7 linked regions of the Homo sapiens genome follow. The protein of the gene in region 1 purifies or fractionates together with the protein of each later gene. This does not show direct contact. Each region holds a gene or a part of one and is shown in the gene's direction. Other genes may lie near its edges.

Evidence for each region.
Region 2: the proteins of NUCKS1 (region 1) and PRKRIP1 fractionate together in Homo sapiens (co-fractionation; one large-scale study listed by BioGRID). This does not show direct contact.
Region 3: the proteins of NUCKS1 (region 1) and RAI1 purify together in Homo sapiens (affinity purification with mass spectrometry; one large-scale study listed by BioGRID and IntAct). This does not show direct contact.
Region 4: the proteins of NUCKS1 (region 1) and BRPF1 purify together in Homo sapiens (affinity purification with mass spectrometry; one large-scale study listed by BioGRID and IntAct). This does not show direct contact.
Region 5: the proteins of NUCKS1 (region 1) and PHF14 purify together in Homo sapiens (affinity purification with mass spectrometry; one large-scale study listed by BioGRID and IntAct). This does not show direct contact.
Region 6: the proteins of NUCKS1 (region 1) and KAT7 purify together in Homo sapiens (affinity purification with mass spectrometry; one large-scale study listed by BioGRID and IntAct). This does not show direct contact.
Region 7: the proteins of NUCKS1 (region 1) and CHAMP1 purify together in Homo sapiens (affinity purification with mass spectrometry; one large-scale study listed by BioGRID and IntAct). This does not show direct contact.

The regions. Positions count from the first base shown.
Region 1 is NC_000001.11:205,715,753-205,719,182, reverse strand, and holds part of NUCKS1 (nuclear ubiquitous casein and cyclin-dependent kinase substrate 1), read left to right. Parts: intron 1-703; coding exon 704-903; 3' UTR 904-3,430.
Region 2 is NC_000007.14:102,409,863-102,413,362, forward strand, and holds part of PRKRIP1 (PRKR-interacting protein 1), read left to right. Parts: intron 1-2,815; exon of another isoform or gene 2,816-3,022; intron 3,023-3,500.
Region 3 is NC_000017.11:17,792,958-17,796,457, forward strand, and holds part of RAI1 (retinoic acid-induced protein 1), read left to right. Parts: coding exon 1-3,500. UniProt on the Homo sapiens protein: Transcriptional regulator of the circadian clock components: CLOCK, BMAL1, BMAL2, PER1/3, CRY1/2, NR1D1/2 and RORA/C. Positively regulates the transcriptional activity of CLOCK a core component of the circadian clock.
Region 4 is NC_000003.12:9,741,735-9,745,124, forward strand, and holds part of BRPF1 (peregrin), read left to right. Parts: intron 1-290; coding exon 291-437; intron 438-617; exon of another isoform or gene 618-807; intron 808-1,209; coding exon 1,210-1,519; intron 1,520-1,843; coding exon 1,844-2,167; intron 2,168-2,489; coding exon 2,490-2,774; intron 2,775-3,273; coding exon 3,274-3,390. UniProt on the Homo sapiens protein: Scaffold subunit of various histone acetyltransferase (HAT) complexes, such as the MOZ/MORF and HBO1 complexes, which have a histone H3 acetyltransferase activity.
Region 5 is NC_000007.14:10,980,372-10,983,871, forward strand, and holds part of PHF14 (PHD finger protein 14), read left to right. Parts: intron 1-2,000; coding exon 2,001-2,788; intron 2,789-3,500. UniProt on the Homo sapiens protein: Histone-binding protein. Binds preferentially to unmodified histone H3 but can also bind to a lesser extent to histone H3 trimethylated at 'Lys-9' (H3K9me3) as well as to histone H3 monomethylated at 'Lys-27' (H3K27ac) and trimethylated at 'Lys-27' (H3K27me3).
Region 6 is NC_000017.11:49,787,432-49,791,480, forward strand, and holds the start of KAT7 (histone acetyltransferase KAT7), read left to right. Parts: upstream 1-1,249; 5' UTR 1,250-1,403; coding exon 1,404-1,418; intron 1,419-1,631; exon of another isoform or gene 1,632-1,679; intron 1,680-4,049. UniProt on the Homo sapiens protein: Catalytic subunit of histone acetyltransferase HBO1 complexes, which specifically mediate acetylation of histone H3 at 'Lys-14' (H3K14ac), thereby regulating various processes, such as gene transcription, protein ubiquitination, immune regulation, stem cell pluripotent and self-renewal maintenance and embryonic development.
Region 7 is NC_000013.11:114,317,503-114,321,002, forward strand, and holds part of CHAMP1 (chromosome alignment-maintaining phosphoprotein 1), read left to right. Parts: intron 1-3,500. UniProt on the Homo sapiens protein: Required for proper alignment of chromosomes at metaphase and their accurate segregation during mitosis. Involved in the maintenance of spindle microtubules attachment to the kinetochore during sister chromatid biorientation.

The DNA.
Region 1 (3,430 bases):
AGCAAAGACTTAATTGTGAAAATGCACAAACCTAGAGTAATACGTTTAAGTTCCACGTTCTGAACTCTACCCCATCCTCTGTGCTATCAGAATAAAACCACACTTGATGACATGAGTTGATTTTTTTCTGAGCCCTAATGGTTTCTCCTCGTTGGAGCTAGTTTGTTAACTAAATCAGAAATCAATTTGCTTTTTGTGTAGGTGGTTTTATTCTGTTAGGTAGAACTAGTCATTGTTAAACTTCTGTTTATCACTTCCTACTGTTAGGAATGATGGAACTATCAAATGTTATTTGATGGCTTTAGTTTCTGATCAGATTAATTCTTTTCCTTCCGTCTTTTTGACCTGCTTTTTATAAACAACTTTTATCATAAACAACTGTTAGTTTACCAAGCAATTAAGGATGTTGTGCATATTCTATAGCATGGTGCTTCTTCTTTACAGGTATTACTGCTAACATCATAGAGTGTTGGTAAAAACTGATGGGAAATACTGTAGCATAGTGTAGTAACTTATGACCAGTTTAGAAACTGAGATAGATTTACCTAGGGATATATGTGCTCCCTTGTGCCCACCTTGGTTTTTAGTAAGTTGCATATTGTCTTTATAGATTTTATTCTTACAGATTGTTGTATTTTGTAGCTGACTTTTATTAAAGACATTTTTTTCTCTTCCCTTCCCCAAATTATTTTTCTATTTTCAGTGACGCCAAGTCCAGTGAAAGGCAAAGGGAAAGTGGGTCGCCCCACAGCTTCAAAGGCATCAAAGGAAAAGACTCCTTCTCCCAAAGAAGAAGATGAGGAACCGGAAAGCCCGCCAGAAAAGAAAACATCTACAAGCCCCCCACCCGAGAAATCTGGGGATGAAGGGTCTGAAGATGAAGCCCCTTCTGGGGAGGATTAAAAGTGATGATGGTCTGGGGAGAGATTTTATTAAAAAAAAAAAGAAAAAAAAAGAAAAAAGAGGGAGGAAAAAAAAGAACCTACTTAAGATAGAACATGGTTTTGGCTATGGCTTGACTCATGGGCTTTCAGTGCTTTTTTCCATTTGTTGAAAGTAACATTTCTCTCTCTCTCTCTTTTTTTTTTTTTTTTTTTAAAGCAAACCATTGTATGTGTAAGTGTTTAAGTTACCTTTTTGTCTATTGGTCTCTTTGCCAGCCCTCCCCTTTCCCAATGAAAGCCATGTCAAATTAATCACTGGATTGACTGCTTCATCTTTTTATTTTTAATGAAAGGTGTACCACGGTTGTAAAGCAATAAGATTTGAGATGAACACTATTGAAACTTCGCTTTTTGCTAAAAAATAGCAAGTTGAATAGTAATCAAAAAACATAGAAAGATTTTAGTTCAAAATGATTGCTCCTTTCTCTACCTGGACTTTTAAAAAATCAATTGTCATCTAATATGAGTTTATTTGTCTATAGACACAAGTATCAATGTCTAAAAAAAATCATGACTTTAAACTTCCACCGATGAGGCAGGTAGGAGATAAAGATGAATTCTGAACTGTTACTAAAAGTACTCATTTTTTACCTTGTAGGGAGGGTGGGCAATGGGGTTACCTGACCTTATTTGAGGGTATGGGCTTTCTTTTTTATTTCATCACTTGTTATCTCAAAGAGACTCGGAGCCAGTGATCCTTTTATCCTGCTACAGTCTTTAGGGAGCTAAAAAAAAAAAAAAAGCAGGGGCTGCCAAAACTCTTGATTTCATATTTCCTTCTCTAAATATATATGTATCCTGTTTTTTGGATAAAATTTTACCAAGAATCCAAAAAAAAAAAAACCCTAGAATTTAATCAACAAGATCAGTCTACAGGTCACAGTGGATTTCTTTTCAAACTGACAATGTTTAGGTTTTAAGCAAATAAAGTTCCAGTTAATGTGAAACTCAGTCACAAAGAGTTGAGATTTTTCCTTTATGAAATAGAATTGACATTCTTTTATGCTATAAATGTGCATTCAGGTCCCATTAACCATGCTCTGCTTTTATTTGGGGATAGAACATTTTCTTTTTCATATCCCGATCTTCCCATTTCTTCATAGAAATGTGATAAGAAGTACATCCCTGTGATCCTGCTGCTTCGTAGAGCACCACTGCACACCCTACCCCGAGTGCCAACCACCTCTGCTATAGGACACTATTTTCCTGGCCCTATTCTTCACTTACTTCCCATCCTGTCCTTGACTAGGAATATGTTAAATGCTGCTCCCATACAATTCAGTTAGCTCTTGTCTTTTTATTTGGTCCAACCCCTGCTTTACTGCTCATGCTGCTTAAAGCAGGAGGGACTAGAGAAACAAGGCATTTTAGGAGGCCTGTGTGCAGTTGAAAACCGACTTTTACACGCCTTATAAAAGCAGTCAGGAGATAGATCCGTAGGTTTGATCCTTCACATCTAATACCAGGCGCTAATGGGAACAAGGTTTAAAGGGTCCTGGTATGCTAATAAATTGAAAAATTAGTGAAATTTAAACTTCTGCCTTTTTTTCCTGCCTTTTAATCTAGATTTGCTTCCTCAATATCCTACTTTGTGGTTTACTAGGAACATGCTTACTCTGATCTTTTTTTAAAAAACACACAGTGGCAGAGTCATTTCACTATTGCACTGTGTGTTAAAGAATGAATAAGGAGTTTTCAGTTACATGGCCAAAAATACAGGACTTGAACATAAATAGCAGTTGGATCATTCTCTTTCATGACGGTTAAATTCAGAGGTGTGAACTTTGTAATGAGGGTGTTAAAGATTAATCTATTTGCCTAAATGGGTTTGTTCAGGTATCCATTTTTAACAAAGAAGTTTGTGTTCATATAGTAAAAGACCTATCAGTGTTTCCACCATGCACTTCTATTTTTTAGGAGTTTATAATTTTAAGTCTTACATTCCTAGTAACATTTGGGCTTTTCTTAGGTTATGTTTCGTGAAGATTTGGGGGGAGGGCTCTTTTAAAACTTCAGCCTCAGTTGTTTAACAGTCTCTTTAATATATTAATCTGCACTAACATCTCTGTGATATATGCACATATTTTAGAGGTAATCATGTCTTCTAGATTACTTGTGTGCATTTGATTGGGCTTCTTGTTTAGGGTCCCTTTTAAAATTAATTCATTAGATTGAAAAATGTATTCTATATTTCTGATAGACTGGACAGAAGGATCTGTGTCCCCAAGTGAGACAGGCTCTGAATAACCTTTGTTTTCTCCACTTTTTATTGATGATTTAAAACACTCTAGTCTTCCCCTCAAATCATGCATGCAAATAGGAGGACAGTGGTGGTGACTCAACTGGATACAGGTGCTCAATAGTCAGGCTTGATAGTGATGTCAGGACGCATTACAAGCTGTAAGCCGATACTGACTGGCCATTGGCACCATCCTTGACTAACCTTCCTCTTTTTCTCTAGTGTGCCTATGGTGAAATGGCAATAG
Region 2 (3,500 bases), on another chromosome or scaffold:
GTAATTTGACCCTCCCTCCTCAGGGTTTGTTGGTTTTGCTGCTTATCATTGTCATTGTTGCTATTTGTGTGTTTAGTGACTTTCCTAACAAATTCTGTAAAACCTGTATTCTTTGTTGTGTTTGGACTCTGAAGTCTCTGCTCGGTCAGCTTAGTTGGTCAGTGGAAGATGAGAGATTTCCTTGAATGTCTTGAACCACCGCATCTCCCAGTCTTTGCCTAGGAGCTCTGTGTGTGTGTTGGAATGTGCCTCCAACCCCCTGGCAGGCAGTCTGCAATTTGCTGTAGCCTTTACTTCCTGCTTGCACAGAGCCTCCAGGGCAGCAGAGGCGAGCGGTCAGGGCCTTGGCTGTCTTTCTTGGGCATGTGCACTGCTCTGGTGGCCCTCTAGAGTCCCAGCTTTTCCTTTTAAGCTTTTTGGTCAGTTTCTTGTTTGTGTCAATCGTTACTGCTGTCTTGGTTGGTGGGATGTTAAACAGTTGTCACTGATGGTTTTTGACAAACGCCCAGGGGAAAATGCTGTTCACGTTGAGTGAGCTCAACTCAATACTGAGTCAGAGCAACTAAAGACAAGCCTTGCAGGTAGACGTTTCCAGGGAACTGCTAGACAGGTCAACTAGGGCCAGTACCCTGGGAGTGGAACTTCCAACAGCTCCCAACCCAGTCAGCCTCCTCCCATTTTTACAGCTACTGTGGCAGGGGGGCTCTTGGTTTTCAAGACTCCCTCAGATCTGGGGAGAGGGAGACGGGAAATTAAAACTCACAGAACTCACACTCTTAGTGAGGTTCAGGCATTTGAACAGCTCGAGGAGCATTTCCAGAGTTCTGAAAAAGTTGATTTTTAGGATTTTTGCCAGTGTTCTGTTACCTTTATGGAGGAGCAGATTTTTGGAGGCCCTTACTCTTCCATTCATCCCTTTAGATTTTAACTTTCAAACAGCACTGCATTTGAAGTATGTTTCCTGTACGTCAAATGTTTGGGTTATGTTTTTTAATTCATTCTGACAGTCTGTCTCTTTCTTGATATGTTTGGATTCAAGGCTACCATTTAATTTGTTTTTTGTTTTCATTTTTGTGTTTTTGAAGCAAGATCTCACTTTGCCACCCAGGCTGGAGTGCAGCAGTGCAATCACGGCTCGCGGCGGCCTTGAACTCCTGGTGGGCTCAAGCAATCCTCTTACCTCAGCCTCTTGAGTAGCTGGGCCTACAGGTGTGTACCACCATGCCTGGCTAATGTGTTATTTTTTTGTAGAGATGGGGTCTCACTATGTTGTCCAGGCTTGTCTTGAACTCCTGGGCTCAAGTGATCCTCCCACTTCAGCCTCCCAAGTAGCTGAGACCTCAGGCCTGTGCCACCACCCTCAGGTAATTTTTGTATTTTTTATAGAAACTAGGTTTCACTATGTTTTGAACTCTTAAGCTCAAGTGACCCTCCCGCCTTGGCCTCTCAAAGTGCTGGGATTTCAGGCGTGAGCCACCATGTGAAGCTGCCGTGGTTTTTCTCTGGCTGCTTGTTTTTTTTTTGTTTGTTTGTTTGTTTTTAAGTTGGAGTCTTGCTCTATCACCTAGGCCGGAGTACAGTGTGCAATCTTGGCTCACTGCAACCTCCACCTCCTGGGTTCAAGCAATTCTCCTGCCTCAGCCTCCCTAATAACTGAGATTACAGGTATGCACCACCATGCCCAGCTAATTTTTATATTTTTAGTAGGGATGGGGTTTCACTATATTGGCCAGGTTGATCTTGAACTCCTCACCTAAGGTGATCCGCCCACCTCAGCCTCCCAAAGTGCTGGGATTACAGGTGTGAACCACCACACCTGACCTTAGTTCTATTTTTAATTTTTGTGTAATCACCATACTTTTCCATAGTAACTGAACCATTTTAACGCCCACCAGTGCAAAAAGGCTATAATTTCTCCACATCCTCACCAACACTTATTTTCTGTTTTTTTTTTTGTTTGTTTGTTTTGTTTTTAGGTAACTATCCTAATGGGTGTGAAGTGGTATCTCACTATAGTATTGATTTGCATTTCCCTAATGATTTGTGATGTTGGGCATCTTTGTTGTTGTTGTTGTTTTGTTTGTTTGTTTGTTTGTTTTTGAGACGGTCTCGCTCTGTCGCCCAGGCTGGAGTGCAGTGGCGTGATCTCAGCTCGCTGTAACCCCTGCCTCCACCATGCCCGGCTGATTTTTGTGTTTTTAGTAGAGATGGTGTTTCACCATGTTGGCCAGACTAGTCTCGAACTCCACCCACCTCGGCCTCCCAAAGTGCTGGGATTACAGACATGAGCCACCACGCCCAGCCAGCACCTGAACATATTAAAAAATGGTTAATACCCCATGATTGTACATGCTTTGTACCAAATGGGAAGAATAGAGTGTTCTAAGGATAACCATCATAAAAGTGGTTTGGGCTTGGACTCTGGCTCACATCTGTAATCCTAACATTTTGGTAGGTCGAGGTGGGAGGATCTCTTGAGCCCAGAAGTTTGAGACCAGCCTGGTCAACAAAATGAGACCCCATCCCTACAAAATATTTAAAAATAAGCAAGGTGTGGTGGTGCACACCTGTAGTCCTGCCTTCTTGGAAAGCTGAGGTGGGAGGATGGCTTGAGCCCAGGTAGCCGAGGCGGCAGTGAGCTGTGATTGCACCACTGCACTCCAGCCTGGGTGACAGAGCAAGAGCCTGTCCCAAAAAAGAAGTGGTTTGTATGCCACTTATCTTGCCTTCTCAGTTTCCTTATTTTTCATTTTGTGAGAGTAAGCAAGCTTTTCCAGTTATCTGCTGGAAAGAAATGGGAGTAATGTGGTAATACCGAGTTGCGCCCCAAGGTGGCTTTGGTGCGCCGTGGGTCCTGGATGGACTCAGAGGCACAGATCACTCAAGCTATTTTGGCTCTTCTCCTAAAAAGCAGGAGGGGCAGCTGGCTGGGTGTTCTGTTGTTGGAGAGGACATCTCACCGCTTGTTTTCTGTGCTGATCCAGTAGCTCAGGGAAGACTCCCGGCAGTGTGGGACTTGTGTCTGAAATGACAGCATAGGATGACATTAAGCCAATGTGGATTATTCTGCAGCCTTGAACTCCCCAGATGATGTATTCCCACACCACTCTTACTTATCCTAACATAGGCCTGCCCATCAAAGAAATCCAGGGCGCCCTTAGGGGATTTGTTACTAGGTACATCTAGAGCAGAGCTTCTCCACAGTTGCACTACTGATGCCTCAGGCTGGAAAATGCTGTGTCCTGAGGGGCTGTGTCTTGGTCACTGCAGGGTGTCTCGTGGCATCCTAGTGTCTACCCTCCCGAGGCCAGGAGCACCCACCTTCCCCCAGTCATCAGCAATTGGATGTCTCCAGACACGACCAGATGCACCCCAGTGGGGGAGGAGGACGGAATTGTTCCTGTCTGAGAGCTCCTGATCTAGGGGCAGGTATCCAGTGTCCAGAAGGCACTCAGCATGTGTTTGGATCAAACTGTTTCTTTCAGAGCCAAAATCCTTCA
Region 3 (3,500 bases), on another chromosome or scaffold:
TTTCGAGAAAGGTGTGGTTTCCATGGCAAACAACAGAACTACCAGCAGACCTCGCAGGAAACATCACGCCTAGAGAATTACAGGCAGCCGAGTCAGGCCGGGCTAAGCTGCGACCGGCAGCGGCTGCTCGCCAAGGACTATTATAACCCGCAGCCTTACCCGAGCTATGAGGGTGGCGCTGGCACGCCCTCTGGCACTGCAGCCGCGGTGGCCGCCGACAAGTACCACCGAGGCAGCAAGGCCCTGCCCACACAGCAAGGCCTGCAGGGGAGGCCGGCTTTCCCTGGCTACGGCGTCCAGGACAGCAGCCCCTACCCAGGCCGCTATGCTGGTGAGGAGAGCCTTCAGGCTTGGGGGGCCCCACAGCCACCACCCCCACAGCCGCAGCCACTACCTGCAGGGGTGGCCAAGTATGATGAGAACTTGATGAAAAAGACAGCAGTGCCCCCCAGCAGGCAGTATGCAGAGCAGGGCGCCCAGGTGCCCTTTCGGACTCACTCCCTGCACGTCCAGCAGCCACCGCCGCCCCAGCAGCCCCTGGCATACCCCAAGCTCCAAAGGCAGAAGCTGCAGAACGACATTGCCTCCCCTCTGCCCTTCCCCCAGGGTACCCACTTTCCTCAGCATTCCCAGTCCTTCCCCACCTCCTCCACCTACTCCTCCTCTGTCCAGGGTGGTGGGCAGGGGGCCCACTCCTATAAGAGTTGCACAGCACCGACTGCCCAGCCCCATGACAGGCCGCTGACTGCCAGCTCCAGCCTGGCCCCGGGGCAGCGGGTCCAGAATCTTCATGCCTACCAGTCGGGCCGCCTCAGCTATGACCAGCAGCAGCAGCAGCAGCAGCAGCAGCAGCAGCAGCAGCAAGCCCTTCAGAGCCGGCACCATGCCCAGGAAACCCTCCATTACCAAAACCTCGCCAAGTATCAGCACTACGGGCAGCAAGGCCAGGGCTACTGCCAGCCGGACGCAGCCGTCCGGACCCCAGAGCAGTACTACCAGACCTTCAGCCCCAGCTCCAGCCACTCACCCGCCCGCTCCGTGGGCCGCTCACCTTCCTACAGTTCCACACCGTCGCCGCTGATGCCAAACCTGGAGAACTTTCCCTACAGCCAGCAGCCGCTCAGCACCGGGGCCTTCCCCGCAGGGATCACTGACCACAGCCACTTCATGCCCCTGCTCAATCCCTCCCCAACGGATGCCACCAGCTCTGTGGACACCCAGGCTGGCAACTGCAAGCCCCTTCAGAAGGACAAGCTCCCTGAGAACCTGCTGTCGGATCTCAGCCTGCAGAGCCTCACGGCGCTGACCTCACAGGTGGAGAACATCTCCAACACCGTCCAGCAGCTGCTGCTCTCCAAGGCTGCTGTGCCGCAGAAGAAAGGTGTCAAGAACCTCGTGTCCAGGACCCCAGAGCAGCATAAAAGCCAGCACTGCAGCCCCGAAGGGAGCGGCTACTCAGCCGAGCCCGCAGGCACACCGCTGTCAGAGCCGCCGAGCAGCACGCCACAGTCCACGCATGCGGAGCCGCAGGAGGCCGACTACCTGAGCGGCTCCGAGGACCCACTGGAGCGCAGCTTCCTCTACTGCAACCAGGCCCGTGGCAGCCCTGCCAGGGTCAACAGCAACTCGAAGGCCAAGCCCGAGTCCGTGTCCACCTGTTCTGTGACCTCTCCTGACGACATGTCCACCAAATCTGACGACTCCTTCCAGAGCCTACACGGCAGTCTGCCGCTCGACAGCTTCTCCAAGTTCGTGGCGGGTGAGCGGGACTGTCCGCGGCTGCTGCTCAGCGCCCTGGCACAGGAGGACCTGGCCTCCGAGATCCTGGGGCTGCAGGAAGCCATCGGTGAGAAGGCCGACAAAGCTTGGGCTGAAGCACCCAGCCTGGTCAAGGACAGCAGCAAGCCACCCTTCTCGCTGGAGAACCACAGCGCCTGCCTGGACTCTGTGGCCAAGAGTGCGTGGCCCCGGCCTGGGGAGCCGGAGGCCCTGCCCGACTCCTTGCAGCTGGACAAGGGCGGCAATGCCAAGGACTTCAGCCCAGGGCTGTTTGAAGACCCTTCCGTGGCCTTCGCTACGCCTGACCCCAAAAAGACAACTGGTCCTCTCTCCTTTGGTACCAAGCCCACCCTTGGGGTTCCTGCTCCAGACCCCACTACAGCAGCTTTTGACTGTTTCCCGGACACAACCGCTGCCAGCTCAGCGGACAGCGCCAACCCCTTTGCCTGGCCAGAGGAAAACCTGGGGGATGCTTGTCCCAGGTGGGGATTGCACCCTGGCGAGCTTACCAAGGGCCTGGAGCAGGGTGGGAAGGCCTCAGATGGCATCAGCAAAGGGGACACCCATGAGGCTTCGGCCTGCCTGGGCTTCCAGGAGGAGGACCCCCCTGGGGAGAAGGTGGCCTCGTTGCCCGGGGACTTCAAGCAGGAGGAGGTGGGTGGGGTGAAGGAGGAGGCAGGTGGGCTGCTGCAGTGCCCCGAGGTGGCCAAGGCTGACCGGTGGCTGGAGGACAGCCGGCACTGCTGTTCCACCGCCGACTTCGGGGACCTCCCACTGCTGCCACCCACCAGCAGGAAGGAGGACCTGGAAGCTGAGGAGGAGTACTCCTCCCTATGTGAGCTCCTGGGCAGCCCCGAGCAGAGGCCTGGCATGCAGGACCCGCTGTCACCCAAGGCCCCACTCATCTGCACCAAGGAGGAGGTGGAGGAGGTGCTGGACTCCAAGGCCGGCTGGGGCTCTCCGTGCCACCTCTCAGGGGAGTCCGTCATCCTGCTGGGCCCTACAGTGGGCACCGAGTCAAAGGTCCAGAGCTGGTTTGAGTCCTCTCTGTCACACATGAAGCCAGGTGAAGAGGGGCCTGATGGGGAGCGAGCTCCAGGGGATTCCACCACCTCGGACGCCTCTCTGGCCCAGAAGCCCAACAAGCCTGCTGTGCCCGAGGCGCCCATCGCAAAGAAAGAGCCTGTGCCACGGGGCAAAAGCTTACGGAGCCGTCGGGTGCACCGGGGGCTGCCCGAGGCCGAGGACTCCCCATGCAGGGCACCAGTGCTGCCCAAAGACCTCTTGCTCCCTGAATCCTGCACAGGGCCCCCCCAGGGACAGATGGAAGGGGCTGGAGCCCCAGGCCGGGGGGCCTCGGAAGGGCTCCCCAGGATGTGTACTCGTTCTCTCACGGCCCTGAGTGAGCCCCGCACGCCCGGACCCCCAGGCCTGACCACCACCCCTGCACCCCCAGACAAACTGGGGGGCAAGCAGCGAGCCGCCTTCAAGTCGGGCAAGCGGGTGGGGAAGCCCTCACCCAAGGCTGCCTCCAGCCCCAGCAACCCGGCCGCCCTGCCTGTGGCCTCCGACAGCAGCCCGATGGGCTCCAAGACCAAGGAGACAGACTCACCCAGCACGCCTGGCAAGGACCAGCGCTCCATGATCCTTCGGTCACGCACCAAAACCCAGGAGATCTTCCACTCCAAGCGGCGGAGGCCCTCTGAGGGCCGGCTCCCCAA
Region 4 (3,390 bases), on another chromosome or scaffold:
CGGTGTGCTTTTAGTTCTGCTGGAAGCAGAATGTCACAGGAGCGTATGAACAGAATCCTCAGTTATGTGACATAGGTAGCTGGTGCTGGTAGTTCAAGAAAGGGGGAAGCCAGAATTGTTGGTGCAAGTTTCCCTGGGTGGAGCCTCATAGAAGGTAGACCTGTATGAGTACACCCAGCTGTGAGGGTGGGAAAGAAGGCGGGTTCCCAGGCCAGCTGGGACCATATCCTCAGACCTCTTTGCCACTGAACTGGCCGAGGCCTGGCTGATCAGGCCTTTTTCTATGTTAGATCAAGGTTCAGCAGATTGCCATGGAGATGCAGCTGACTCCTTTCCTCATCCTCCTTCGCAAAACCTTGGAGCAGCTCCAAGAGAAGGACACAGGCAACATCTTCAGCGAGCCGGTCCCTCTGTCTGAGGTAACCGAATTGGACGAAGTAAGAATCCCTTCCCCTCACTCCACCTTCTCTCTGTTCCTCTCCCAGTTGGACCCCTGCTGCAGGTCTGGGCCAGGACTAGATGGGGACCTTGAAGAGAGGGGCTGGTGGCTCTGGGGCAGGATGAACTGGAGCCACATGTATCACCTGGACTCTGTCTTGTCCCTGTCACACCCCAAGGGCCCAGAATGGGAGGCAGTCTGCACTCCTTCCCCAGAGGCAGGGACTGAGTCTGCCAAATGAATAATCCCAGGGCAGGAAGACACTTTCGGGGTGCTGAACCCTAGAACGGAGACTTTAGAAGGCTCAGCACCTAAAGAACCAGCTCTGAAGCCCTAGGTCCTGACTGGCAGACTCTTCTCTCTAAAAGGTATAAAATGAGAGGCCTGAGGCAGCAGCCTCCTTATAAGTTACTGTTAAGTAAAAAGAGCTGTAGGAATGCAAGGTGGTGTTTATTTTCAGAGGAGTCCCCAAGCCATTTTCTTACTAAAGCCTCATATAGTCTAGAAAGTATATTTGGCTCTACTTTCATCATTTTCCAGGAGAGGAAAAGTAGGCCCAGAGAGGTTAAGAGACTTGCCAAAGTCACACAGCTTGTGACTGGTAAAGTCAGGACCAGAATCCAGCTTTCCTTTCCCCTGTGCTATATGCCTGCCTCTAACTGTGGTGGGAGGAGGTTGCTGGATGTGTTTCAGGGGGGCTTGTTAGGAGCAGGGTTCGGGGCAATAAGGAGGATATCTCCACTTAAAACAAACCTGCCCTGCCCTTCCAGGTACCTGACTACCTAGACCACATCAAAAAGCCCATGGACTTTTTCACCATGAAGCAGAACTTGGAGGCTTACCGCTACCTGAATTTTGATGATTTTGAGGAGGACTTCAACCTCATCGTCAGCAACTGCCTCAAGTATAACGCCAAGGACACCATCTTCTACCGGGCAGCAGTGCGGCTTCGTGAGCAGGGTGGTGCTGTGCTCCGCCAGGCCCGGCGCCAGGCAGAAAAAATGGGCATTGACTTTGAGACGGGCATGCATATCCCCCACAGCCTGGCTGGAGATGAGGCCACACACCACACTGAAGATGGTGGGTGATATATCACACACACATATAAGAGGCCAATGCCGGGGATGGACAGCTTTCCAAAAGTCCCCTCCTGGGAGCAGGCAGTGTAGGCAGAAAGCAGCTAGGCTGAGCAGTGGCAAGCTATCCCCAGGAATGCTCCCCAAGAAGCCAGACTGGGTGAATGGATAGCAGTGCCCGCCATTCCACATCTTGGTGCTGCTATTTTACAGCTGTTCCTGGTGAGAAGCCCAGGGGGGATGAGTGGGTTTCTTGCTGCCTGCCCAGGTTCAAGGGGCCCTGAGGGCTGCCCTGAGTCTGACCTTTCCCCTCCAACCCTACCCCTAGCAGCCGAGGAAGAGCGGCTGGTCTTGCTGGAGAACCAGAAGCACCTGCCAGTGGAAGAACAGCTAAAGCTGCTTCTGGAGCGGCTGGACGAAGTGAATGCCAGCAAGCAGAGTGTGGGCCGCTCACGGCGTGCAAAGATGATCAAGAAAGAGATGACGGCACTGCGGCGGAAGCTTGCCCATCAGCGAGAGACGGGACGTGATGGCCCTGAGCGGCATGGCCCCTCGAGCCGGGGTAGTCTGACACCCCACCCGGCAGCCTGTGACAAGGATGGGCAGACAGATAGTGCGGCAGAGGAGAGCAGCAGCCAGGAGACAAGCAAAGGTCTGAATCCCATGGCAAGGTGGACCCCAAAGCAAGTCAGACTTTGGCTCTGCAGCACACACTCAACCCCTGCCATTCCCCAGGCAGAGGTCCCTCCTACACAGCTAGCTGTACTTTCTCCCTCATTCCCCAATCAGGGGCCTCTTAGCTGCCTCTCTGGCTATTTGTATAAGAGTTAATCTTCCAAATTCCAAGCCCCTAAAATGATCTCCCCAACGTTAGCTGGAGTAATGGTCCTATATGCCCAGGGCATGACCCTGGATATCTACCCTTCTCAAATCAGGCCCCTCACCAACTCTCCTTCTTTCTTTCTCTGCTCCAGGCCTGGGTCCCAACATGTCCTCAACCCCCGCACATGAGGTGGGCAGGAGAACCTCAGTTCTGTTCTCCAAAAAGAACCCGAAGACAGCTGGACCGCCCAAGAGGCCGGGCCGGCCCCCCAAAAACCGGGAGAGCCAGATGACCCCCAGCCACGGAGGCAGTCCTGTGGGGCCCCCCCAGCTCCCCATCATGAGTTCCCTGCGTCAGCGCAAGCGGGGTAGGAGCCCCCGGCCCAGTTCGAGCTCAGACAGCGACAGTGATAAGTCCACAGAAGACCCCCCAATGGGTGAGCCTTACCATCACCCAGCCCCCCAAGAGAGTGAGCAAAGCTGCCATTCTTCCCAGCATACTCCCAGTTACCCCTTTATTTGCCCATAAAAGAGCGAGCTAGAAGGGTCCTTAGGAATCCTTTAACTCCACTCACTCATCTTACAGTTGGGAAAACTGAGGCCCAGAGACACTACGACCCAGCTAAAGTCCCATCCAGGGCCCCCTGCCTCCATTGTATCACTTTACCTTTTCTCTTCTCACCTTCCTTGGGGATCTCCTGCCCTTTAAGCCATTTGTGTCCTAAAGCCAGTAACTGCCGAGGGAAGCAAGGGGTGGAGCAGGGCTGTGGCCAACTGTGGTAGACACTGCCCAGAGCTAGCTCTGCTGGCCAAGGTTGGAGGAATTTTCCAGCACAGAAGGGGAACCCAAGCTCCAAGTCCCTCTTACCTCCATGTCATCTCTGATCTACATCTTCCTGACCGGTTCCTTCCCTCCTCCCCTTCCCTTCAACCAAGACTTACCAGCCAATGGCTTCAGCGGTGGAAACCAACCAGTGAAGAAGAGTTTCTTGGTATACCGTAATGACTGCAGCCTTCCCCGGAGCAGCTCAGACTCTGAGTCCAGCAGCAGTA
Region 5 (3,500 bases), on another chromosome or scaffold:
CTTTCTGTGTCTTAGAAGTGTTGAGTCAACTCTGGTTATTATTTATTAAATCATAATTTTAAAATGTCAAGAGATTACTATTATTGTTATTTTTACCAGATGTGATTTTTCTTGGTAGGTTGGGTTTAATTGCTGTGAGTGGTTTACAAAATCATAATTTTCTTAATGCTTTAGAGACTGAAAAGAAGTCACTTGTTTGTGAGTAATATTGGGTCCACACTCTTGAAATCCAAGAAGCTTAAAAATCCAAGTGTTTTGTAAGGTTCACACAAACTTACTTGATGGCAAAGCCTAACGGAACTGGTAGGAGTTTATTTGTAGTATTTATTTCTCATACTCTGTAAATAGGATTTATACTTTTCTCCGCAGAAATAATGTTTGATTATAGGATAATACCATGGACTTCACTGGGGGTATTAGTGTAATATATGGTGCATGTTCCATGTTACCCTTGAAAATCTGAGAAATTATGAATTCTGAAACACATCTGGTTCTTAAAGTTTCAGATAGGGAATTGCTGACCCGTATGATATTGCTCTTGTATCCTATGCAAGGTTGTTTAGGATAAGAGTGTTTTTTTCAGAACAGTCCCAAGTAAGCTATGGATACCTACATGACAGTTGTGAGATTGATAATGATTTCATAGGGTCAGTCAGTATCTGTTAAATGTTAGTGTTTATTTTTTATGCAATTTTGCTTGCAGGATGTTTTTGTTAGCAGTCATTTGTATGTGACTTGTGGGGTTCACTAGATACCAGATACTAATTACAGACAGCTTCCTTCAATTTTAGTGCTTAGTTAATTACAGAGGTTAAGCCTAGTTGAGTTAATAGAAATTAAAATGATGTGGAAACACTTTACTTTTTCCACCATTTTATCATTACCTTTTTCTTGGCTATAGGTGCAAAAAAATTCATCATCCTGTGGATTTTACTGGCTAAGACTTAACTGGTTTCTTCCCCATCTCCTACTGCTCCCTGTCCTCTTTCCCTCCTCCCATTTATTTCTCGCTTCAAAGATTTTAGATTGTTATTTACTTAATTGGGTACAAAAAGAATGATTACTGAGTACTTACTGAGTAATGATTACTGAGTTACTAAGTAGTGTTGGGTTGAGAGGGACTGGGCTGCCCTAGGCAGGAGTGGAAGAAACCTGCTAGAAAGCTTACAGTCCTGTGAGCTCTTTAATGTCTTCAGCCTAACTTTTTAGTAACCTCTGTGACTGCTCATTTTCAGGATGGACTGCTTTATTCATCAATTTCTTCCATTCTAGAGCATATAGTAGTTACTGCGTAGAAGTTTTGAAAGTGTAGTGACTCTTCTTTTATTGATACGAACAGTATCCTAATAAACAGGAAGATTGATAATTTCTCTTGCAACTTCCTTTTTCTGTGCCATTGCTGTTGTCTCTTTTCACCTGTGTTCTTGGTATTCCTAAAATTTGTTTGGTATATTAGAGTTGTAGTATAAGTTGACTATCATAAATATCTATGCTTATTTTACTGGGTAAAGAGTAAAATAAATGAAGCAGTTTTATGGGTTAGATTTATCTTGTTTTGGTTTTGACTCAATACTTACAAGTCCATATAGTTTATAAAAGATGTTTAAGGGAGGAAGAATTTTGTCTGTATTATCAGTAAAATTAAAATCAAGTGCCCAATCTTAAAAGAAGCACATTTACTTTAAAAAATAATTGCCTTTTCAGTACCAAATATTGCCATATGACACAAATTAGTGCTTCTCTTTTTAAAGCATATTTTAATTTAGGGTTATCTATATTCATCTTCATTAGCACTATACTGAACTAAAACCATTGTATCAACTTCATTGATTTATTATTTGATCAGGTTGGGAATGTCTACCATTCTTTGACTTAAATTTGTTTATATTGTTTTGCAAGTTATTCACAAATTTTGGTGGTTTCATTTGTGTCAGCGTTGTGTGTGTGTGTGTGTATGTATATACATATGTGTGGTTTTTTTTTTCTCATATTTTCAACAGATTCTGAAGGGAGTGGTAATGGAAGTGAAGATGCTTCAAAGGACAGTGGAGAAGGTTCCTGTAGTGATTCTGAAGAAAATATTTTAGAAGAAGAACTGAATGAAGATATTAAAGTAAAAGAAGAACAACTTAAAAATTCTGCAGAGGAAGAAGTACTATCATCAGAAAAACAATTAATTAAAATGGAAAAGAAGGAAGAAGAAGAAAATGGAGAAAGACCTAGAAAGAAAAAGGAGAAAGAGAAGGAAAAAGAAAAGGAAAAGGAGAAAGAGAAGGAAAGAGAGAAGGAAAAAGAAAAAGCAACAGTATCTGAGAATGTGGCTGCTTCTGCTGCTGCCACCACACCAGCCACAAGTCCTCCTGCTGTTAACACATCCCCTTCTGTTCCCACTACGACAACCGCTACAGAGGAACAAGTCAGCGAGCCAAAAAAATGGAACCTTCGACGAAACCGACCACTTCTGGATTTTGTGTCCATGGAAGAGCTGAATGACATGGATGACTATGACAGTGAGGATGACAATGATTGGCGACCTACTGTAGTAAAGAGAAAAGGGAGATCTGCGTCTCAGAAAGAGGGAAGTGATGGAGACAATGAGGATGATGAAGATGAGGGAAGCGGGAGTGATGAAGACGAGAATGATGAAGGCAATGATGAAGATCATAGTAGCCCTGCCAGTGAAGGGGGTTGCAAGAAGAAGAAGAGTAAAGTTCTTAGCAGAAACAGTGCTGATGATGAGGAACTGACCAATGATAGCCTGACCCTATCTCAAAGCAAGAGTAATGAGGTAGATCAACCCAATTTTTATATCTGTCTGTCTGGGGAAAAGGGAATTCTTCTCTAAATCACTCTACACATTGTATTAAGTGGCTTCCTTGAAATCCTATTTATAGACGGCTGTGGGATGAATGAGCACCCTAACTGTAACATTTTTTCATTTGGCCAACAGACTTTTATTAAATATCTACTATTTGTCACCGTTCTCAAGGAGCTCACAATCTCTGTCCTCAAGGAGAAATATTTAGAGAAATATTTTTATATCCATAGACTTGGGAAATGACAAAGTTTTCCATTCTCCTTTTTATCCCTTTACTCCTTTGTTCACAGGACTGCTGAATGGTGCTGAGTGCATTATGAAAACAAAGGTCACCTTTCTTTCAACTTAGTTGTGTCCATATCCATATTAAAATATAGGCCTTTAGAATACCTTAGAGCAGGGCAACAGTCTAATGATTTTCTGAAACCTTTAGAGATTCGTTTTAAATATTAATTCCTTTACCAGTTGTAGCACTCATCATCTTTTTAGTCACCAAATCTTTGCTTTATGTGTATGGGACATACACATAAGTATGAACTATTTTTACATATATTTAGTAAATAAATTCTCTCTACAAAGAAATGGAATAAAAACCCAAACATTTCCATCATAAAACAGACATTTTTGTCACAAAACTGCAGTAATGGCTCAGTGCTTCTACTTGAAGTTCTACTACTGAAAG
Region 6 (4,049 bases), on another chromosome or scaffold:
GGACATCCCCAAGGAGAGTGCTGGCTAAAGGTCTGGAACTTTAAATCTTTAGAGTTCTTTACTTAGCACATCAATCAGATATTTACCTTCTGCTTCTTTGTTCTTTAGCCCTGCTCCTGGGGGAAATCTCCATCTTAACGGGGCCTCAGTTTGAAATTGGGGTTCGGGATCCTAACTTAATGACTGAGCGTGCCTGGGTTCCACCCAGTCGCAATTGGTCAAGACTTGGTCCTCTCAAGGCCTTTCCTCCGGAGAGGTTAAATCCTCAACGCCTGCTCTCCACTTTCCAGCCTTTTCTTAAGGCTCTTCTTTCAGCCTAGTATCTGTGACCAACTTCTCCTTCCTAGGCCCTCTCATTATTATTTAAATGTCCATTCTTTTGGGGGCTTCAACTTCACTAAAAACATTCCTTCCTCTTCCTCCGCCTCGTAACTCTCTGCTCAAGCATCTGGATGCCAGAGGTCATTTGAGCTAAATGGGGTTCAAAGCTTTTCTGACTCTGGTACTGCATTCCCCACTTTCAAATCACATTTTTCACCCCAGGGCCCCCAGTGGTCTCAAACCCAAACACAGTGCGGTTAGGAAGTGGGCACTCGCCACAGAGCTAAATTGGGAATTATTTGACCTGCAGCTTCTGGAGAATGGTTTTGCCTCCTCCCCGCGACATCAACTAACTCACTTGCTGTTAGCTAAGGGCAAGGACAATGTCTCCTCTACCAGACAGGAAACTTGATGGCGGACGCTATCCGTTAGTTCCTTTTTCAATTCCCCATTCCCACCCCTTCGAGACCACGATGTTTCTTAAAATACAAAGTTTCTTTTACAAAACATCCCTCCGCAACTTTGAGTTTATATAATAAACGGAAACGTCCTTTAAACAATCAGGCTACGAAGGGGTTAAATCTAATCTCAGCAACCTGATGGATTCTGGGGGGTTTCCTTCCTCGACTCTAGAAATTAAAACGAAATTTTGCCCAAGGTAAAGATGAGAACCGTTTACATCAACTGTCAGGCTTCTGCCCCAAACAAGAATGGCTACCCACGCCCACAAACAGAGCCACTCACGTAACTAAAAATGGTTGGCTCCGGGTTCCACCACTGGAGTCACTTTCTGCCCAACTTCAAAATGGCGCCCACTAGCTTCACCAAAAGGATCGAACTTCCCAGCACCCTCTCTGGCCCGTAACGTCAGGTGACGCGAGACCCAGCCGGAAGTGAAGGAAAAAGCGCTTCAGCCCGCGGCGCCTGCGCAGAACGCTCCAGACGCTGAGAGGCAGGAGGCACTAGGGATCGTCCGCAGGATTGGGACTGATACAGAGGCCGCCACGGAGCCCGCCGGAGCCACCGTTCCTGCTGCTGCCGCCGCTGCCCGAATCGGAACCGTCGGGCCGCAGCCGCCGGCAATGCCGCGAAGGAAGGTGAGAAACGGGAGAGGAGGGATGGCGGGTTTCTAAGGACAGTCGATTGAGCACCGTGACGCAGTTGGCCACGCCTCACAGTGCTTGGGTCCCAACTTTCCGCTCCCCCGAACCTTGTTCAGCTACCCTCTCTTCTGTCCATACCCAACAGAAAAATGTGGGCCCGACCCTGGCCTCGGCCTATGCTTGCAACTATTCCCGCCCTCTGCTTGCCTGGATCGGAGGCGTTCTTATTAATTGGTCGCTGAAACGTCTGGAAGCATATTGATTGGCTGGTGACGCCGCCTGTTTGGGCTCAACGGTCACCTCCCCGCGTGCGGGGGCGGTGTCTGGCCCCGGCCCCAGCGCTCTCCCACTGGCTGGAGAGAACGATCCCTCCTCTCCTGATTGGTCGAGGTTGGCAGTCTGTCCTGTGGGGGCGCGGCTTAGGCGGACCTCGATTGGGTGGCCCGAATCCCCGCCTTTCCGAGCGGGGACGCTGATAGGTGCAGAGGCGGGGTTTTGGAGGCCTCGTTACCTTCCAGGTGAGGGGCACAACAAAGCAGAAGACTGGGTGGTGGGAAGCCAGCGCCCACTCGCAGGGGATCCCTCTCAGGCCAGTTGCCTCTTTCCTTATTTGCTAGTTCGACAGCGCCTAGAAAATGCAGTTGGTAAAAACTAAAAACTTCTAGAATTAGAAGGCACTTAGAAGATCACCCAGGAATGGCCCCGTCGTTTCTTCTTACAGCTGAACTAACGGAGGCCCATGGAGTGCCGCAAGCCACTCAGGCAGTGGCAGATCCAGAATATAGAACAAATCTAACTCAATTCAACAAATGTCTATTGACTACTTTCTGCGCGGTGGTTGCTGTGGATTCAGAAATTAATTAGATGTGATCCCTGGCTTAAGGGTGTCACAGCCCGATAGGAGAAAACAGACATGAATAATCTTAGAAGGATCTAGTAAGTTCTCAGCTTGGAGGTGTATACAAGGTGTTGCTGGAAGGAAGTGAAGGAGCAGTTAAGTCTGCCCTGGAGTACAATGGGAGATATATTGGTAAAAGCCACAGAGAAGAGCTGAGTTCCAGGATCAAGCCAGGAAGGAATAAGTCTCACGTCAAGGCTTTAAATATCTCGGTAATTAGACTATAATGGTGACTTTTAAGATTCCCCCTTCATTTCAGCCGTTTTCTGTGATTCTTGCTCATTTCCTGGCAGGTTACCCTTAAGATACTTGGAAAACTGGGTGGTATTCTTGCTCATATCAATAGAAATCTTTCTCTTCACAGCGGCTTTTCAGGTTGAAAATGTACACTTTTTAATGTCTCCTAAAATGACCTCAGCTGGTGGGTGGTATGTATGTGTTTTTTTGTTTGTTTGTTTTTGAGACGAGGTTTTGCTCTTGTTGCCCAGGTCGGAGTGCGATGGCGTGATGTTGGCTCACTGCAACCTCCGCCTCCCGGGTTCAAGCGATTCTCCTGCCTCAGTCTCTCTAGTAGCTGGGATTACAGGCGGATTCCATGACGCCCAGCTAATTTTTGTATGTTTAATAGAGACGGGATTTCACCATGTTGGTCAGGGTGGTTTCGAACTCCTGACCTCAGGTGATCCACCCGCCTCGGCCTCCCAAAGTACTGGGATTACAGGCATGAGCCACCACGCCCGGCCGGTGGTATGTATGTAAAGGCTCACCAAATGCAGGAATAATATTGGTGCCTTGAAATAGGGCCACAGTCCTCTTTCTTAATTTCCCAAATACCGGGAGTTACTTGAAAATGTACATTTTTTTAGTAACCTGTTTGGCGGCAAACCTGTCTTAATCTGTCCTGAGGCTACTTATGGTTTTTGTGTGTCTCATTTAGTGTGACTGTTTATATTTTTTGCTGCAGAAATACTATTATGTTTTGTTATTGGGTGGTATTTGCAGGATACATGCAAAGTACTCCCCTTCTAAAAATCCAAAACAATTACAAATTCTAAACACAACTGGCCCTCAGGGTTTTGAATAAATAATTGGGACTTACAGTGTGAATCTTTGTATTGTTTTCAGTAAATATTTTTTCCTTTCTGGTTTTGTAAAGGGTATAGTGTTAGTGCTTAATTGATAAAAGTTATCTTTATGGCTAAGAAAGAACTCCTCAGGAGGATAATAATTGACAAATCCTTGCTCATTGAAAAGATGGTTTTGAAAACAACTGTTTTTGAATACCCATGAGTCTTCATGTGCAAGCTGCCTTTTTGGAAGATAGATGGCTTTCATGTGGAGAAACGTCAAGGATAGATGGCATACGCACTAACAATTTTCATCTTTTTCTGCTTAAATTCTTTTGGGATTAGAGTTGTGGTCCATGATATTTTGAGATAGTGTATGGTTTTTAAAAAATGTGATAGCTTTTCATGGAGACATTGAACAAAAGCTACTCTAAGTTAAATGAGGTCCAGCACCAACGATTTTCTCACTACAGTGGACCTTTTTTTGTGATATTGATCTCCAAATGGTCTTGGTTAATACTTAGTACTAATACAGTAAGAATTAATTCTCTTCATGGCCGGGTGTGGTGGCTCACGTCTGTAATCCCAGCACTTTGGGAGGCCAAGGCGGGTGGATCACCTGAGGTCAGGTGTTCAAGACCAGCCTGGCCAACATAGTGA
Region 7 (3,500 bases), on another chromosome or scaffold:
GGTCCCAGCTACTTAGGAGGCTGAGGCGGGGGGATCTCTGGAGCCCAGGAGTATGAGGCTGCAGTGAGTTGTGATGGCGTCACTGCACCAAAACCTTGGGCAACAGAGCGAGACCCTGTCTCTAAAAAAGAAAAAAAGTCCGCTAAGATAAAGAACAATGCTAGTGTGTATAGACTAATAGAACCCATTTAGCTTTGAACATGTTCTACTTATTGAATTTTAATTTAAAAAACTATGCATCAGATGTGTTTTAAAAGATGATCAGTGGTGTTCGACTTCAAAGAAGAAATTGAATGGGAGATGGGAAATAGGTATGATACACCATCTGGCATAACATTGCATTGAAGGATACTGGGTGATAGACTGGCAGAGCACCAATGATTAGAATTTAGGTTTTTTAGAGACGAGATGTAATCTGTCTCAAAGACAAAAAGAAATTTTTGTTAATCTGGACAATTCTGAGTTAATTTTTAGTTAGGGTTAGGAGTTCTTAAATTTAGGAAGAAATTTTGCTAGAACCTAAAAGCTGGAAGGACGCCCAGCTCTCTAGGCTTTGCCTAAAAGTTGAATTCTGGGACTAAATTCTGTAACATCTTCGTGGATCGTTCTGCTACTGTGGGAAAGACAGCATTTTGTTACAGCAGAGACCAGAATTGAGAAAACCAGAATAAAAAAACTGTTCCCTCTGACCTCAGTGTTGTGATCTTTGACAGGTCACTTCTTTCCCTCAGCATCAGTCTTTTCAGTTATAAAATGAAGAGGTTGAACTCAAGACCTCTGAAGATCCTTCTAGTCCTATGCTGATCATCATTTTTTTTTTTTTTTGGTTTTCTTTTTTGAGACAGGGTCTCACTCTGTCATCTAGGCTGGAGTGTAATGGTGCAGTCTTGGTTCACTGCAACTCCTGCCTCTCAGGCTCAGGCGATTTCTCTTGCCTCAGGCTCCCGAGTAGCTGGGACTATAGGTGCATTCTGCTGCACCCGGCTAATTTTTGTATGTTTTGTAGAGACGGGGTTTCGCCGTGTTGCCCAGGGTGTTCTTGAACCCCTGAGCTCAAGGGATCCACCTGCCTCAGCCTTCCAGAGTGCTGGGATTACAGGCCTGAGCCACCACACCCGGCCTGATCATCAGATTCTAATTATGGAGTACTCCTACCTGACAAAGGAACTCGTTCTAGTTCATGATAGAGTAGATTGTAAACTGTGTTAAGCCACAATTCTTTTCCTGCTAGCTTCTGATTGTCACTTCTAGGATAGCTCATATATTATCTATAATTCTTCCCCTTTTGAAGTTAAATGTCTTTATTTGTAAATGACTTTTTTTTTTTTAAAGGGCCATCTGCCATCCTGGTTGCCTTTTTTTTTTTTTTTTTTTTTTTTTTTTTAATGTTCCCTAGTTTGTTAGAGACTCTCTTAAAGTGTCCTTCCTGCCCAGAGCTGGGGACAGTGATCCACTGGAATAGTGTACTCTGCCCAGTGCAGAATATGGGATATAGTTCTCTATAGTCCTGTATTTATGCACTTGATATGTGGATTCTAAGTGTTTGTTTCATCTTGTTTATTTTGGACTATTGTACAGGCTTTAAAAGATCTTACTAAATTCCACTGTATTAGTTTGTGTATATCTACAAAGAACCTGGACAGATAGCAGAACTTTATTCTCTCATCAGATACTGATCATTTGTCTGATTTGGGCAAGCTGTTTAATGTCAAGCTTGAGTTTCCTTAACTATAAATTGAAGTTTTAAAGTAGATGATCCCTGAGGTCTTTTCCTACCCTCAAATCCTATGACTTTGAGACTAGATGGTAACTTAGGTTTCCTCTAGTTTTAAAATCCTGTGAGTCTAAGATTGAGAGAATGTTAGGATTGAACAGAGCACATACTGTGTGTCAGGGATGTGCAACGGTTCCAGAGGTGAATAAAGGGATAATAGTCCCTCCTCTCCAGGAGCTGGCATCCTGTTTTTGGTATCAGGCTGTAGTGCCAGAGGGTGACATGTACAGCTGGGGCTTCTAGGAAGATTGGGAAGAAGTGGGGAATTGACCAGTACAGTTGACTCATGAATAACAGAGGTTAGAACTTCAACCAAATGCCAATAAAAAAGAGCGTTTACAGAATGTGAAACATTTATATGGAGGGCAGATGTTTCATATATGGGAATTCCACAAGGCTGACTGTAGGACCTGAGTATGTGTGGATTTTGGCATATGGGGGAAGTCCTGGAACCAGGTCCCTGTGTTTACAGAAAGACAGCTGACTTAAAAAGCTGTCCTGCCTGAAGGATGAAGGAGTTTGCCTGATGGCCGGGTGGCAAGACAGGGAGTGTAAAGGAGAGGAAATAGTTTATACAAATGCACAGACGCTGGAATAGTCAGGGAGTTACATGTGGGCCAGTATTTTGAGAATGCAGTCTGGTCATGGGCCAGACTGTGAAGAGCTTTATATGCCATATTCAAATTGTATACTGTAGGTGTCTTAGTTGACTTGGAGGACATGTGAACAGGCAGATCACATTAGGCTTCTGTTTGGAAGACAGGTTTGGTAGCTGTACGATGAATGGGTTGGAAGAAAAGGAGACTAGTGGCAGGGAGTTCAGATGTCAGAATTAAAGCAGTGATAGGGGTAGGGGATAGAGAAGGGGTAGATGAATGTGCTGGAGCTAATCAGAAGCATAATATGAGCTGTTGTGTAGCTTGTGCATGGCCAGTTTATCACATTCTGTTCCTGTCAGCAGACTCACCCACACCATGATGCTTTATCTTTGAAATGCATGCAGGAAGAGAAGAGGGCAGAGCAATCACTGAAGCAGGTCCATGTGTTCTTCCTTGGGGTCAGGACACTGCCATCCTGCTCCTCCCAGAGTCCTTTCTTTTTGTGCCTCTTGGTCCTCTTTGTTGTGGTGTCCCTTCCTCCACTGCCTGTTAATTTGGCACTCTGCTGTGTAATATCAATAATTGACAAAAGTCAGCCATTGTTATAGTCAGTAGTCACACCAGCAGTCTTCTGAGTGCTTATCAGAGAAGTGAAGTTAGGTGGTGGGTTTGAGAAGGATTTGATTACACACACGGGCATAATTCCATAGTGGATCATTAAAGAGAAAGTAGACAAGGATGGTGTCAGGAGTGGTATCTACTGTAGTCTTTGGTGTCATTTCATAAAAGTAAGTGTTCGGGCTGGGCGCGGTGGCTCACACCTGTAATCCCAGCACTTTGGGAGGCCGAGGCGGGCGGATCACGAGGTCAGGAGATCGAGACCATCCTGGCTAACACGGTGAAACCCCGTCTCTACTAAAAATACAAAAAACTAGCCGGGCGTGGTGGCGGGCGCCTGTAGTCCCAGCTACTCAGGAGGCTGAGGCAGGAGAATGGCATGAACCCTGGAGGCGGAGCTTGCAGTGAGCCGAGATCGCGCCACTGCACTCCAGCCTGGGCGACAGAGCAAGACTCTGTCTCAAAAAAAAAAAAAGTAAGCAGGCTTAGTGGACTGGACTCCTCTCACT